Regions from separate parts of the Homo sapiens genome. Here region 1 is linked to region 2. Evidence: fine-mapped expression QTL. Tissue or cell type: pancreas. Region 2 holds a variant in brackets; the other region holds the start of a gene. All regions are shown on one strand. Distances are from middle to middle.

Evidence for each region. PIP is the estimated chance that this variant, and not a neighbour inherited with it, causes the effect.
Region 1: it holds the start of TEAD4, and the variant in region 2 is fine-mapped to the expression of TEAD4 in pancreas (GTEx, PIP above 0.99).

Annotation. Positions count from the first base shown.
Region 1 is chr12:2,958,159-2,960,909 of GRCh38, reverse strand. TEAD4 (TEA domain transcription factor 4) reads right to left here and starts at 1,513. Exons shown (of 13, transcript NM_003213.4): 1 at 1,429-1,513; 2 at 870-962. It overlaps LOC124902859 (a long non-coding RNA gene), which reads left to right and starts at 862. Exons shown (of 2, transcript XR_007063159.1): 1 at 862-1,169; 2 at 2,685-2,751. RefSeq lists an enhancer at 608-1,343.
Region 2 is chr12:2,981,320-2,984,070 of GRCh38, reverse strand. All of the region lies in intron 2 of TEAD4 (TEA domain transcription factor 4), which reads right to left. Among named protein-coding and RNA genes, the nearest start is that of TEAD4, 23 kb to the right of the region's middle. RefSeq lists an enhancer at 2,422-2,751. The variant C/A (reference allele first, on the strand shown) is at 1,485.

The DNA.
Region 1 (2,751 bases), 23 kb after region 2:
GGAGGCCACACACTCCAAAACCACAGTCAAATTATCCCTGCACTCAGGCAACCAGAGACACTGACTCTTGCCCACGGCTATGTAGGGAGGAAGAACAGTCCTAGCCAGAACCAACATCCTCGAAGAGAAACACATACTCAAGAGACGTGGCATCACACACCTACTCAGAGATACTCACTTTCAGACAGCCCCTTCTCACGCAGACATATACACACACTCTGTCACTCACGTTCAACACAAACAAATACGCCCACTGGAAGCCAAGGTGAGCCACACGTGAACAGACATCACCCACACAGAGACTCAAAGCGAGGGGGACTCGCAGTCAGGTGTCACACAGACTCAGCACAGACGCAGTCAGTCCGCGGGGCCTCAAGTGCCTCAGCACAACGGGGGAAATGTTCACTTTGGGGTTTGAAAGTTCTGCTCCCTGGATCGATCCACTAGTCCCCATCAGGAAACACAGCAGCTTCCCAAGCCCTGAGGTGTAGGACCTTTTGCAGGGGTCCCCCGACTTTCGCATCGCCTTTGCACTTAAAACAGGCAGTCCGCTTACCTCCAGGTCTCTCCCTTCCAGGCTCGAAAAGGGCCCAGCAGAAAAGAGGCATGGGTGCTGGGTCTCTTCTGTTGCCGATGCTCTCGGTTCTGCCTCTCCGGTCCTTTCCACACCGGCCTCCCTTTCCCCCAAAGTCCCGAGTGTCCACCCCCCTTACCCGCCCCTGGAGCCGCTTCGCCTCCAGCAGCCTCAGTCGCGCCGCCTCCACGTGCCTCGCTCTTCCCAGTCTCGTCCCGGGAGGGAGCTCCGCACGCACCGCGCAGACTCCTGCCCTCCGGCAAAGTCCTACCAAGTCCCCGCGCCCCAGCCTTACCGGTCCCAGGGTGCGGGAAGGTGGGATGGGTGCGCTAAGCCAGTTCCAAGGAGTCCGCCCCGAGCGCCAACTCTTCCGGCCGCGGCGATCGTTCTGCGGGGACGACAGGGCGTCAGCGCGCAGAGCCGGGCTCCGGCCGGGGCCGACGGGCGGCGCAGTGAAGGCGGGGCCGCGGGGCCAAGCCCACCCCGCGCCGACCGGCCCCGGTGCGCCCAGCGGAGCGGAGCGGAGCGCGCGGAGGGAGGAGTTTTCCCAGAATGGGACTGACGGGAAAACACGGGGATCCCTATTCCTGGAGGAGTGAGTCAACCGGGAGCGAGGAGGGGAGCGCGGGGCGGACAGGAGGGAAGCGGGAGAGGGGCAGCGAGCAGCGCCGGAGCGCGGAGGGAAGCCAGAGGTCGGGACGGAGCGCGTCGGAGCGCAGAGGTCCAAGGCGGGAACGCGGGCGGCGGAAAGAAAAGAGCAGCCGAGCACGCGGCGCGAGCGGTCGGCTGCGGCGGCGTGGGGCGCGCGGCCCGTGAGGGCGCCGGCGGGTGCGGCGGGCGCGGGCGCCTCTCACCTGGCGGGACGCGGCGGCGCCGGAGCTGCGGCCCTCCCGCCCCCTGGCCTCGAGTGTGCGAGGAGGACGCTGGAATGCGCGGAATGAGGGCTGGAATGAGATGCGCGCCGCGGCGGGAGGGAGGGAGCCGGAGGGAGTGGCGGCGGGGCCACCGGCACCTCGGGGAGGAGACTGCGCCGCGCGCGGGCGGGCGAGGGGCCGGGCCGCCGGGGCGGGGCGGGGCCGGGCCGGGCCGGGGCGGGCGGCGGGGGAGGGGGCCGAGGGACGGCGGGGACCCCTCCACCCGGGCCTCGGCTGCGGCCCCCACGCCCACTAGCCCTTCGATCTCTCCGCTCCGACTGTTTGGCTGCTCGTTGCGCGCCCCGCGCCCTCCCCTCCTGGCGGGGTCCCGACTCCCTTTCCCAGGAGCCGAGAGCCTTCCTCTTCGCCGGGGTGGGGCTGTCCCGGGGGCGGGGGGGTGGACGGGGCCCAGACTCCCGCCCCGCCACCCGGCGTCCCTCCGCACGAGTCCCTGGGAGGCCGGGGAAGGGGCGGGCTCCCGGCGCGCAGGAAGGGCTGCTCCCTTCCTGCGGCTCCCACCAAAGGACACTTGCTCCGGGGAACCAGGAAGCAGGAACTCGCGGGCTCCATTCCCAGATCCGCTGCCAGTGCCCCCTCGCTTGCCCTCCCCGGCTTTAGCTCTTTCCGTTTTTCTCTCCTGCCCCTTGGGCATCTGTAAAACCGCCACTACGAGTAAACCACATGGGAGAAAGGGCACTCGGTTTGAAGTCCATGTGGCATGCCATGGGACGCCTTCTGGGCTCAGTGACTCAATGAATATTCATCTAAGATGTGTGATGAGTCCAGATACTGTGAAGATCAGGATCAGCCGTCAGCACCTGCCCTCAAAGAGCTCAGAGTTTAGCTGGGGAGGCCTCGGTGTATACTGCCATCGGTGAGAGTCTGGACTTCAGACACACATGCCCAGGAGTCTCTTATTGGGGCAGGAGGTGCTGGAAACACGCTGGGCTCCTTGTTTGGAGACGCTTAGGACAAACGGGCTTAAAGCAGTGTGCTGGCAGGTAGCGCCATCATCTACCTGGCCAGGAGACTGAAACCAAAGGACTTTTGGCTTTTTCCAAAAATCAAATCCAACCTTTTCTGGGGCATTATCACTTAGCCTTGTGTTGGGTGGTTGTCTAGATCTTATCTCCCTTGCCAAACAGAAACTTCCTTGAAGACAGAGTAATGTCTGATTTATCTTATCTTTCACACAGATCCAGCCTGGTGCCTGGGATAGGGAAGTGCATGATAAATGCTGCATAAATGAAAAACAATTGCTAC
Region 2 (2,751 bases):
TGGAGGTGCTGCTACCTGAAACTTCCCTTCCATTCCTTGTTCACCGGACCAACTCTTGCTCAGCCTTAAGGTCCAGCCATATGTCACTCCCTCTGGGAAGATGACTCCAACCTTAGCAGATTCCTGCATTTCCATATCCAGCCCCCATCTCCCAGTAAGGACTGGTCTCCACCACACTTTAGACACCATGGGGACAGGGACAGCTGTCTTCCTCTGTAAGTCCTCAGCACGCTGCACAGAGCTGATGAACACAGAATGAACAAACGAAGGGATATTTGTTAAGTGTTATTGTGGAATAATGATTTCTCTGTGGGGAGAACAGATTGCTCTGTGCTTAGTTTTGGGAAACAAAAGAAACCTCAGGAAATGTCTGGATTTTGGCATACCAGAAAAAGAGCTTGAATTGTGCATAAATCCCTTTGGGGCTTATTTTGGAGGCTTGTAGAATGGAAGTGTGATGTATGGGAAGCAAGAGCCTGGCTTTGGTTCCAGTTCTACCACCAACTACACAACCACAGACAAACCACCTCTCATTTTTCTGGGCCTCATTTTGCTTATCTGTAAAACAAGAAGGATGCCCTCCTTGGGATCCAGGGTCCTTTCTGTGCTAGCAGTATCTGTGGTTCACACTCCCTCCCCAGATCCCAGAAGTCTCCAGTGGCCTCTAGAAGTACCTTGCAGACTTTCATGTGTGGCTCTGCTCAGAAGGCTGGGGAACTGATCCATCCCGGAAGGCTGTCCCGCAGGAGAGATGACATAGTGAGATGTCATCTAGCGTAGGGCCTGACACAGTCAGTGCTCATAAGAGCTATTTCTTATTGTCTTCATTGTTACTAAGCCATAAACAATGCCAAGTAGAAAGTCTGAAGCCCTAATGCCTAATATTAATACTTAATTAATTAATCATTTTAATACCTGAGGCCTCTTAAGTCCTGGTTGTAGCCTAGATTTTCTTCTGGACCTGACACTAAGTACAGATGGATGCCCTGAGTCAGGTGGAGGGTGCGGTGGAGGCCAGGATGTCAGGAGACGGAAAGGAGGGCCGCCACCTCCCTTACCCCACCTGACCCCTTCTATGGTCTCTGGGCCCTGCTCCTCCTCAGAATTCCCCTTCCTTCACCCAAGCTGAGCTGGACTGGCCTGGTGAAGTGAGCACCATCAGTCCCTGCAGAAGTTGGGCCTAGGGCAGCCCAGCAGAACACACACCTGGGGAGAACCAAAGACTCCTAATGCCAGACCCTGCCCCACGAGTGGGGTTTTCTGAGGACCTGCACTCCATGTCCCTAGGATTGGGTCTGTCCCAGGAAAAGCAGGGCAGCAGGTCATCCAAGGCCCTGGGCCACAGGGTTTGTTACCGAAATGGGGTTGCTCCCAGCCCCACGTGTCCCTGGTGCTCCAGGTTCACAGCCGTCACTGGCGAGCTTCTCCTATCTGCCCGCGGCCCACATCCCGGGGCTGGCAGCTGCCTCCTGCCACCAGGCAAA[C/A]CTCCCACGCACCGCCCTGCCCTGCGGCTCATGGAATGGGGTAAGCCAGCACCAGCCTCCTCCTCCTTCCCCAAGTGCACCACAGTGACCCAGGAGGGCCTGCCAGGGGAGAGCTGGAGGCGGGGGACAGATGGCATCGTGGAGCTGGGCCATGCGCTGTGAACAGAAGAGTAAAAATAATCCCAGACTTGGTTCTCAGGGCCCAGCCCAGGAGCCTCTACTCTGCCTCAGCCCCAACCAAAAGCTACAGGGTAGCCCCCAGGGCAACCCCAGAAGACAGCAGGTTGCTCCATCCTAGGGCCCACAGGTGCTAATTACTCAGGAATTTCCAGAAGGATCAGGAATGTATGGGCTTTTATTAAGATCTCCCTAATACTCAGAACAGTAAGCTCCTCCAAAAACACTTTCAGGACAGGAAGGGAATCAGGATGCTAAGTTCCAAATGGAGAGTCCAAGCCTCAGGGAGGGCAAAGGACCTGCCCCGAGAAAAGGCAGAACCAGACCCCAGGCCAACCTGACGTCCTCTCCCTAGTCCGATCCATCTCACGCTCCCAGAGCCCTCCTTTCAGAGCCTTCTGCAGCCACTGTGATCCCTAAGCCCCTCACAACTCCTCCAGCCTCTAGAGCTGAGACAGAGAATTCAGAAGAAAACACCCTGATTTTGGGGGTCACTGGGCTTCATCTCTCAAAATAAGAAATGGAGAAGTCTCTTCATTTTAAGAGAAATCATCTCTTAAAATGAGACAGGTGAAAGAGGAGCAGCAGACCCCAGCCTTCTTCCAGGTGCATCCCCACTACCCTCCAGCACCCCTGGGCTTCTCACCATCTCCTGAGCCCCAAGTCTGTTCATACTGCTTCCCTGCTTAGGGTGGGCCTCAGTACTAATTTAATTCCTGCCAACAGTCCATCAACTAACTCTTTACTTGAAGTACCTGTTCTTGGACTAAACTCTAGAGAAAAGGGTCCAGACCTTCATGGGGCTCAGACTTCAGATGGGGATGGGAGACTAGACAGACATGCAAACAGGTAAGTGCTATGGAGTGTCAGAGGCTTGGGTGGAGGTAGGTACAGGGCACAAGCGGGTGCAGTGAGAGGCCCCCTCTACCCTGAAGGGTTCCCTGAGCCCCAGTTCCCAGAGGCCCCTGAGCTGCTACACTGATTGCCTGAATGTGCTGTGCTACTCTGGCCAGTCAGTTGTCTGCTGTCTTCCACGCTAACTAAGCTTGGAAACTCAGGAGCTGGAAGACAAAGGGAGGAGGCCAGGGGA